2 separate regions of the Homo sapiens genome follow, and region 1 is linked to region 2. Evidence: fine-mapped expression QTL. A gene starts in region 2. The other region holds a variant in brackets. All regions are shown on one strand. Distances are between the middles of the regions.

What was found. PIP is the estimated chance that this variant, and not a neighbour inherited with it, causes the effect.
Region 1: its variant is the best candidate, but not a certain one, in a credible set for the expression of PXN-AS1 in whole blood (TOPMed, PIP 0.59).

What each region holds. Positions count from the first base shown.
Region 1 is chr12:120,241,393-120,246,618 of GRCh38, reverse strand. The region is part of intron 1 of PXN (paxillin); the gene reads left to right. Among named protein-coding and RNA genes, the nearest start is that of PXN, 22 kb to the left of the region's middle. RefSeq lists an enhancer at 947-1,773. The variant G/A (reference allele first, on the strand shown) is at 2,232.
Region 2 is chr12:120,198,657-120,203,882 of GRCh38, reverse strand. It overlaps PXN-AS1 (PXN antisense RNA 1), which reads right to left and starts at 2,592. Exons shown (of 4, transcript NR_038924.1): 1 at 2,457-2,592. RPLP0 (ribosomal protein lateral stalk subunit P0) reads left to right here and starts at 2,772. Exons shown (of 8, transcript NM_001002.4): 1 at 2,772-2,800; 2 at 3,052-3,153; 3 at 4,398-4,573; 4 at 4,678-4,765; 5 at 4,883-5,029; 6 at 5,144-5,226. The coding sequence starts at 3,100. RefSeq lists enhancers at 2,257-2,616, 3,017-3,086, 4,127-5,068, 5,188-5,226.

The sequences.
Region 1 (5,226 bases), 43 kb before region 2:
CCTCCCAAAGGGCTGGGATTACAGGCATGAGCCACCGCGCCTGGCCTGGCTAAATTTTTCTTTTTTCTTTTTCTTTTCTTTTTTCTTTTTTTTTTTTTTTTTTTGAGACAGAGTCTTTCTCTGTCCCCCAGGCTGGAGTGCATGGCTCACTGCAACCTCTGCCTCCCAGGTTCAAGTGATTCTCATGCCTCAGCCTCTGGAGGAACTGGGATAACAGGCATGCGCTACCATGCCCAGCTAATTTTTGTATTTTTAGTAGAGATGGGGTTTCACCATGTTGGCCAGGCTGGACTCGAACTCCTGACCTCAAGTGATCTGCCCACCTCAGCCTCCCAAAGTGCTGGGATTAAAGGCATGAGCCACTGTGCCCAGCCTAATTTTTTATTTTTATTTTTGTAGAGACGGAATCTCACTGTGTTGCCCAGGCTGGTCTCTAACTCCTGGCCTCAAGCAATCCTCCTGCTTTGGCCTCCCAATGCGCTGGGATTATAGGTGTGAGCCATTGTGTCTGGCCTCTTGCCTTGTTTTAGATTCATTGAGTATTTTTTAGGGTTCTGTTTTATTTCCACTCTTTGCTTATTTAGCTATACTTCATTGGTTTGATTTTAGTGGTCACTCTGTGGTTTGCAGGTTTAAATTAATCACAATCTGCCTTCAAATCATACCATACCATTTCACGTATAATGTAAGAACAGTATATTTCCATTTCCCCCTCCTGTTTTTTGTTATTTCTACATATATTATGAAACCCGTACTATGTAGTCCACCTTTTATGTTTGTCCACAAATTTACTATAATATTTCTAGCATTCTTTTTTTTTTTTTTTTTTTTGAGATGGAGTCTCGCTCTGTCGCCCAGGCTGGAGTGCAGTCGTGCGATCTCGGCTCACTGAAAGCTCCGCCTCCTGGGTTCACGCCATTCTCCTGCCTCAGCCTCCCAAGTAGCTGGGACTACAGGTGCCCGCCACAACACCCGGCTAATTTTTTGTATTTTTTAGTAGAGACGGGGTTTCACCGTGTTAGCCAGGATGGTCTTGATCTCCTGACCTTGTGATCCACCCACCTCGGCCTCCCAAAGTGCTGGGATTACAGGCGTGAGCCACTGTGCCCGGCCGCATTCTTTTTTTTTGAAGACTAAAGAAGTTAACAAAAATGTCAGGAAAACATTGTTTTGTTTTTTTTTTTCTTCCCCTCCTTTTCCCATTCTCGTCTGAGAACGTGTTGTCTTCTTCCTCCCTGGCTAGTTTCCCTGCCTGTGAACTCCCTCAGCCTCACTAATCTGTACGTGCTTTGTGGCTCATCCCATCTGTGCTTCAGTCATGATAATCGATGCTGTCAGTCTCTCTGGGCTACACAGCCCCACACTTGGTGTTGCTGACACATTCCGGTGGTGCACGTTTGAGAAAATCGCACATTCCAGCTCATGTCCCCTGCCTCCTCTGCTCCATGGGGAGAGGTGTGACCAGATCTGCAGGGCCTGGGGCTGCCACACTCCTGTTCCTTCTTGCTCTGTTGCTACGTGATGCCCCTCCTCCTCCTTCCCCAGCACCAAGCCAGAGAGTCACCCAGTCCCAGGCCCCAACTCCCTCCCAGCTGCCTCATTCCTATGCCCTGAGCCCACCTCTTGGAGCTCCCCTTCCCCACCCACAAAGGAAGCCAGATAGGCCACCCAGTGAGTTTAAACCTTAAGTACCCACAAGGGGCTATGCTCCAGCCACAAAGTCTTGTGGACTATTCCTTTGATTTTTTTTTATTATTTATTATTTATTTTATTTTATTTTATTTATTTATTTGTTTTGAGACAGAGTCTCGCTCTGTCACCCAGGCTGGAGTGCAGTGGCGTGATCTTGGCTTACTGCAACCTTTGCCTCCCAGGTTCAAACACTTCCCTGCCTCAGCCTCCTAAGTAGCTGGGATTACAAGCGTCTGCCACTGCGCCCAGCTAAGTTTTGTATTTTTTTTTTTTTTTTCCGAGACGGAGTCTCACTCTGTCATCCAGGCTGGAGTGCAGTGGTGCGATCTCTGCTCACTGCAAGCTCCGCCTCCCGGGTTCACGCCATTCTCCTGCCTCAGCCTCCCGAGTAGCTGGGACTACAGGCGCCCGCCACCACGCCTGGCTAATTTTTTTTGTATTTTTAGTAGAGACGGGGTTTCACCGTGTTAGCCAGGATGGTCTCGATCTCCTGACCTCGTGATCCGCCCGCCTCGGCCTCCCAAAGTGCTGGGATTACA[G/A]GCGTGAGCCACCGCGCCCGACCAAGTTTTGTATTTTTAGTAGAGATGGGGTTTCACCATCTTGGCCAGGCTGGTCTTGAACTCCTGACCTTGTGATCCACCCACCTCAGCCTCCCAAAGTGCTGGGATTACAGATGTGGCCACCATGCCCAGCTATTTTTTTGTTTGTTTATTTTAGGGTAGGAGTTTTGCTGGTTGGGGAGGGGTGGTGGCAACTAGATCACAGTAGATGGGACATTCTGGGATAGAAGAGTAGGAACAACTTGGGCCCTGTGCTCCTGTGTTGCTCTCCCTCACCGGGCTTTGCATACAGTGAGCTCTTAGGGAGGACCAGGAGGTGGCATGAGCTGAAGTGGCAAGGCTGATCTCAGCAGCAGACTGACTTGGCGCAGGTCATTTGTTGATTTGTTTGGTATCATCCATGGAGCCCCTATTATATGCTAGGCTCTGCCCAATGCTCAGATGAAGATGAATATAGGCGTACTCCCTACCCACAATGTGCTATTCCTAGGCTGTGAGACATGGCCCCTTAGGCAGACAGTTCCTACCAGCTTGAGGTGTTCTCATAGGAGAAGTGCACAGTGCTTTGGGAACTCAAAGGAATGGAGCCTCAAACCCTTTGTAGGAGAGTAAGGTCAGGGAGGGCTTCCTGGAGGAAATGGGATCCTAAACTGACTCTGTTTTGTGTGTGTTTTAAGAGATAGGATTTCTCTGTTGCCCAGGCTGGAGTGCAGTGATGCCATCATAGCTCACTTGCAGCTTCAAACACCTGGGTTCAATCCATCTTCCAGCCTCAGCTTCCTAAGTAACTGGGATTACAGGCATGTGCTATAGCACCTGGCGAATTTTTAAAAATTTTTTGTAGAGACAGGGTCTTGCTGTGTTGCCCAGTCTGGTCTCAAATTTCTGCCCTCAAGCAATCGTCCCGCCTTGGCCTCCCAAAATGCTTGGATTACAGGCATGAGCCACCATGCCCGGCCTTTTGTTGTGTGTTTAAATAGAACCTCAACATTTAGAAAAGGCCCCAACCTTTGTCCTTTACTTAAATGGTCATTCTGTAATAAGATTTTGGAAAGAGACCTTCCCAGCAGAAAAGCAACACGTTGCTTTTTCTCTAGGTAGGCAGGATGGATCCTTTTTATCCTCTCGTTGAAGAAGATAAACTAAGCTATTATGAGTCTCAAGGGATTAGAAAGGATTTAGCCTGGTAAAGAAGACAGGAGAGAGGTCTAGGGAGAGGGAATAGCTCATGCAGAGGCCTGGAGGGCGGACGTGTGTGCAAGCATGTGTGTTTAGTTCATTGGTAGTGATTTGGTGCCCTGTGTCCAGTTGGATCTTTCAAGCTAATCAAACTTATCCTGAGCCACAAGGCCAAGGACAGTCATTAGGCTTTGCATCTTCATTGGAATGACCTTTTGGGGATGACCTTGCTACGATAGCTGAGATGGGGCTGGCCTTTGGGGCATCTGTTATCCTACAGTGAGATGAGCTTTTTTTTTTTTTTTTAAAGCCCGAGTCTCGCTCTGTCGCTCAGGCTGGAGTGCAGTGGCATAATCTTGGCTCACTGCAACCTCTGCCTCCCAGGTTCAAGCAATTCTCCTGCCTCAGCCTCCTGAATAGCTGGGATTACAGGCGTGTACCACCACACCAATTTTTGTATTTTTAGTAGAGACAGGGTTTCTCCATGTTGGCCAGGCTGGACTCGGACTCCTGACCTCAAGTGATCTGCCCGCCTCTGCCTCGCAAAGTGCTGGGATTACAGGCATGAGCCACCACACTTGGCCATGAGATGAGCTTTATCTGTGCAAAGTCTCTCTGTGGTCAGCTGGGGCTGGGGCCGTGGGTCAGTTCTGAAGGGCATTTCCATGAGGGTTTGAGGCCTGAGATTGTGTCCTGGGCCCTCTGGCCCCAGTGGTGAGCCGCATGCTCATGTGGCAGGAAGGATCTGGTTCCTCTGATAACCTGCTTAGGCTGACCCCTCTTTTTCCTGGAGGACGGCTGTCAGAGATGGGGCTGGCTTTCTATTTGAATTTCAGAGGCAGACTCGTGCAGATGGGTGCGGGCAGAGGAAGGGAGCCCATGGTCTTCCTGAACACTCTGAGAATTCCCAGAGCAGGCTGCATGCAACTTCCTGAGGTTCTCCCAAAGCCAGACAGGGAGAACAACTTGTGTTCAGGAGAAGGGTACCATATAATTTAACAAACTGTTACTTAGATAGGTGCCTTGGCCAGAGAAAAACGTCCTTGGGCCCTGGCTCAGGGAACACTGTGGCTCTGCCTGTTCTTGGTGTAACTCCTGATCCTTGTTACCGTCATTACCTGACCCCTGCCGCAGACCTTCTTCCCTGTCTCATCTGTTCCATCCCTCCTGCAGGAAACAAACATGGGAGGCATCCTGCACTCCTCACTCCTTCTCCATATCCACTCAGTTTCCAGGTAACATTGATTTTACCTGATTTCATGTAGAGTATTGCAACTCTTGCTCTTCCTCCAATTGAGCCCTGCCTCCCTCTGATCTCCCCTGCCTGAGTGATGTAAAGTGCAAGCCTGGTCCTGCTGTTCCGCTGCTGACCGCCTTCCTTCTGTGGCTTGCCCTTGTAAGTCCAGACTCCCCAGTGGGCCCTCGGCCCTTGACTCCTCTTCCATCAAGCTGGGACTTGCACTCTGAGCTCCCATCCCCTCTGTCTGGGCACTTTCCCAGGCTGTTTTCCACCTCTGCCTGGAAAGCCCCTCCCCTTTCCTCCTGGCCCACTGCCGCTTTCAGGGCCTTCTGCCCCTCGTTTATGACAGTCTCCCACTAGTCAGTGCTCCCCGGAGACAGGCATTGTATATTTGCCCCTCCCATGCCCAGCATAGTGCCCGTGCACACTATGTGTTTGTGAACGCGATTGGAGCCATCACTAGTAAAGGTGAGGCTGTCCCAGTGAGAGCATCGGAGGGAGGGTCTTGGAGGAGGCACGTGAGACAGGTGCAGGTGGCTCTGCCTTGGATACCCA
Region 2 (5,226 bases):
ACCCCATTCTCCTGCCTCAGCCTCCCAAGTAGCTGGGATTACAGGCACATGCCACCACGCCCGGCTAGTTTTTTATATTTTTAGTAGAGATGGGGTTTCACTGTGTTAGACAGGATGGTTTCGATCTCCTGACCTCGTGATCCGCCCACCTCAGCCTCCCAAAGTGCTGGGATTACAGGCGTGAGCCACCGCACCTGGAGTGATTGGAATCTTAATAACCTGTCAAAACAGCATTTAAATCTCATTCATGTTATTTTCCATCCTTCCCATGGAACACAGATAGCCAAGAAGACAAATAAAAGAGACCCCAGGCCAGGCACAGTGGCTCACGCCTGTAATCCCAGCACTTTGGGAGGCTGAGCTGGGTGGATCACCTGAGGTCAGGAGTTCGAGACCAGCATGACCAAAATGGAAAAACCCCGTATCTACTAAAAATACAAAATTAGCCGGGCATGGTGGCACATGCCTATAATCCCAGCTACTCAGGAGGCTGTGGCAGGAGAATCACTTGAACCCGGGAGGTGGAGGTTGTGGTGAGCCGAGATTACGCCATTGCACTCTACCCTGGGCAACAAGAGTGAAATTCTGTCTCAAAAAAAAAAAAAAAAAAAGAAAAGAAAAGAAAAAAGAAAAGAAAAAGAAATACAGTAACGTGAAATCGAGCTACTTCTAACTTTTTTTTTTTTTTTTGAGACGGAATCTTGCTCTGTCACCTAGGCTGGAGTACAGTGGCGCAATCTCAGCTCACTGCAACCTCTGCCTCCTGGGCTCAAGCAATTCTCCTGCCTCAGCCTCCCAAGTAGCTGGAATTACAGGAGCCCGCCACCACTCCTGGCTAACTTTTGGTATTTTTTAGTAGAGACGGGGTTTCACTGTGTTAGCCAGGATGGTCTGGATCTCCTGACCTCGTGATCTGCCCACCTCAGCCTCCCAAAGTGCTGGGATTACAGGCATGAGCCCCCGCACCCGGCCTACTTCTGACAGTTTTATGGTGTGTGATATAGGATATAACATGATGTATGAAGCTCTTTGTAATAATTTTTAATTTTGAAATAGCTGATTCTTTGGGGATCATTTAATACATAATTCCATAGGTTTCAGTGAAAAAAAAAAAAAAAAAGAGATCTCAGGGTTGGGCAAGGTGTCTCATTCTTGTAATCCCAGCAATTTAGGAGGCCAGGGTGGGAGGATTGCTTGAGCCCAGAAGTTTGACATCAGCCTAGGCAACATGGCAAGACCCCATCTATACAAAAAGTACAAAAAATTAGCTTGGCGTGGTGGTGTGTGCCTGTAGTCCTAGCTACTTGGGAGGCTGAGGTGGGAGGATCACTTCAGCCTGGGAGGTCAAGTCTGCAATGAACTGAGATTGCTCCACTACACTCTAGCCTGGGCAACGGAGTGAGACTGCTTCTCAAAAAAAAAAAAAAAAAAAAAAAAAAAAAAAAAAGATTTGATGGAGGTGAATTATTCTATGGATGTTTGTTGGCTAGTTTTCTAGGAAGAGGGAATGGCTAATGCAAAAGCCCCCAAGTAAAGCCTGCTCTGGAAAAGCAGCAGAGCATCATCTGGGTAGAAAGCAAGTAAGTGAGGAGGAAAACATCTGAGATGATCAGAGTGGGCGTGAGGGACAGATAGGTAAGGGCCTTGTAGGTACTTTAGGTTTTAGATTTTTACTCTGTAGGAAACGGAAAGTTTTAAGCAGATAAGGAGATGAGCTGACTTAGGTTTTTTTTTTTTTTTTTTTTTTTTTGAGATGGAGTCCCTCTCTGTCACCCAGGCTAGAGTGCAATGGTGTGATCTTAGCTCACTGCAGAGCTCACAGCTCCCGGGTTCAAGCGATTCTTCTGCCTCGGCCTCCTGAGTAGCTGGGATTACGGGCATGCGCCACCCCACCTGGCTAATTTTTGTATTTTTAGTAGAGACGGGGTTTTGCCATGTTGGCCAGGCTAGTCTCGAACTCCTGACCTCAGGTGATCCACCCGCCTCGTCCTCCCGAAGTGCTGGGAGTATAGGCGTGAGCCACCGCGCCCGGCCAGGTTTTAAAGGATCCCTCTGTTTTGGTAGGCGGAAAAACTAGAGAAGACGAGAGACCATTCTGAGGCCGGGCGCGGCGGGTCACGCCTGTAATCCCAGCACTTTGGGAGGCCGAGGCGGGCAGATCACGAGGTCAGGAGATCGAGACCATCCTGGAGAACATGATGAAACCCCGTCTCTACTAAAAATACAAAAAAAAAATTAGCCGAGCACGGTGGCGGGCGCCTGTAGTCCCAGCTACTCCGGAGGCTGAGGCAGGAGAATGGCGTGAACCCGGGAGGCGGAGCTTGCAGTCAGCCGAGATGGCGCCACTGCGCTCCAGCCTGGGCGACAGAGCGACACTCCGTCTCAAAAAAAAAAAAAAAAAGAGAAACCATTCTGTTTCTAAGCATGTGCAATTATGTCTCAGCTCCACGTCATACCTTTTAGTTTGCTGAGCTCGCCAGGTGGCACAGGGAACCGGGACTCCGAATTCGCAGCTCCAGCTCCAGCTCCAGCCCAGCAGGTGGCAGCAGCTCAGAGCAAGCTCCTCCAACGCGAGGCAGCGCCTTCCTTCGCGACCCTACTTAAAGGCGGCTTTCCGTTGGCTGGAGTGGCAGCGATATTATCCAATGGTTGCCTGTATTCGTTCAGCTTTGTCTGACGGGCGATGGCGCAGCCAATAGACAGGAGCGCTATCCGCGGTTTCTGATTGGCTACTTTGTTCGCATTATAAAAGGCACGCGCGGGCGCGAGGCCCTTCTCTCGCCAGGCGTCCTCGTGGAAGGTTCGTGTGCTAGTTAGATGGGCGCCAGGGGTCGCCGGCGGGAAGCATGGAGGGGTCTTTGGGGGCCTTTGGGAACATGGAGTCCTATTCTGTTCCGCCTGGGGCCTCGGTGGCGGCTTGCACGCCCCGAGATGACGGCCGCTGCCCTAGGCAGGGCCGGCGGGCGATTGCGCGTGTCCTGCTCCTCTTAGGCCCGGGACCGCGGGATGGGTGTCGGCGTGACCAGGCCTGAGCTCCCTGTCTCTCCTCAGTGACATCGTCTTTAAACCCTGCGTGGCAATCCCTGACGCACCGCCGTGATGCCCAGGGAAGACAGGGCGACCTGGAAGTCCAACTACTTCCTTAAGATCATCGTAAGTGCAGGGTGGGTCGCCTCTGCTCTTCATGTTGCCCCAGCGCAAATAGGGACAGTCAGCTGCTATGTGCTGAGGGTCTACTCACACCGGCTACTGAATTAGGCCATTTTTGGGAAAATACTGTTTAGTTAACAATTTCCTGAGATAGGTCCCTTCTGTTGCAGATAAACGGGCTCAGGCAAGTTAAGTGGGTCCTAAGATGACAGCATTCGTATCCAGGTCTGTCTGGCTTCTAAAAGAGCGCGCTTTATACTTTTTTTTTTTTAAACGGAGTCTCGCTCTGTTGTCCAGGCTGGAGTGCAGTGGCTTGATCTTGGCTTACTGCAACCTCCGCTTCCCAGGTTCAAGCGATTCTCCTGCTTCAGCCTCCCGAGTAGCTGGGATTACAGGGGCGCGACACCACACCCAGCTAATTTTTGTATTTTCAATAGAGACAGGGATTCACCATGTTGGCCAGGATGGTCTCGATCTCTTGACTTCATGATCCACCTTCCTCGGCCTCCCTAAGTGCTAGGATTACAGGTGTGAGCCACCGCGCCCGGCCGCACATTACAGTTTTACTCCATTTTTGAGAAGGTCTGAGGTCAGGAATGACTCATTGTAAGGAAGCAAGCTGTTGCATATTTAGGACCTGTCAGCCAAGAAACTTAAGTGTCCAATGACTTTTGGATGGCCTTTGAGGTGGGTCTCCCTTGCCCAGAAATGCTGACTGTACTGCGCTTAAGCAATTAGGCAGCATTGTAGAGCATAGCTTGTATTACATTTTCCCACACTTAGAAGGTTTTCAGACACAAAACCCAAAGGAATTGTGTAACAATCCGGATAAACACGCCTAGATTGTTTTTACAAATAATAATGTTGCTATATTTGCTTAACGTGGTGCTTTTAATGCTGTGAATCTAGCCCTCCTCTTGACCAACTTACTTGGAACATTCCTTTTTTATCCTGTTAACCATTTTAGTGAATCAGAAGCATGCCTGGTAATTGGGAAAAATTAAAAACTAAGTAAAAAAAGAAAAAACTCCTTGATTGAATGTAGAAACCTAATTTTCAGCGTTCATACCCAGCTAGCCAATCATCCAGTTTGGCAGTGTTACAACGTAGCTCCCAATCTCCCTCTGACTTCAAAAGCTTAGAAGAAAGGGAGTGGGATGGAAACAAATTGTGGGGTTCAGTTTCTTCTGGCATTTTTTCCCTCTCTCTTCCTGTTAAACTTGGCTCCTCTGGCTTGTTTTTTGTAGCAACTATTGGATGATTATCCGAAATGTTTCATTGTGGGAGCAGACAATGTGGGCTCCAAGCAGATGCAGCAGATCCGCATGTCCCTTCGCGGGAAGGCTGTGGTGCTGATGGGCAAGAACACCATGATGCGCAAGGCCATCCGAGGGCACCTGGAAAACAACCCAGCTCTGGAGAAGTCAGTTCCCCTGGCAGTTTTGTCCTTTCTCCCCAGTGCCCGTCTCCCTCTTCCTGGAGAATGGTGCTGAAAGGTGATTGTCTCCCATAAACTTCTCTTTGCAGACTGCTGCCTCATATCCGGGGGAATGTGGGCTTTGTGTTCACCAAGGAGGACCTCACTGAGATCAGGGACATGTTGCTGGCCAATAAGGTAAGGGGACAATTGGGTTGGCTAAAGAGACTTTGTTGTTGCTCCTTAAAGCAAAATGGACCATTCTCAGGTTGTGTGAGTGGAGAGGCTTTTCTCACTGTTTGTTGTCTTTGTCAGGTGCCAGCTGCTGCCCGTGCTGGTGCCATTGCCCCATGTGAAGTCACTGTGCCAGCCCAGAACACTGGTCTCGGGCCCGAGAAGACCTCCTTTTTCCAGGCTTTAGGTATCACCACTAAAATCTCCAGGGGCACCATTGAAATCCTGGTGAGTGGACCTGGTTTGCCTGTGCTAACCAGGCAAATGGGGAGCTGCTTTTAGTGGCCATGGATCTGCTGGTTGTCCAACAGGTGTTTACTGCCCCACTATTATCTGGTTCAGAGTGATGTGCAGCTGATCAAGACTGGAGACAAAGTGGGAGCCAGCGAAGCCACGCTGCTGAACATGCTCAACATCTCCCCCTT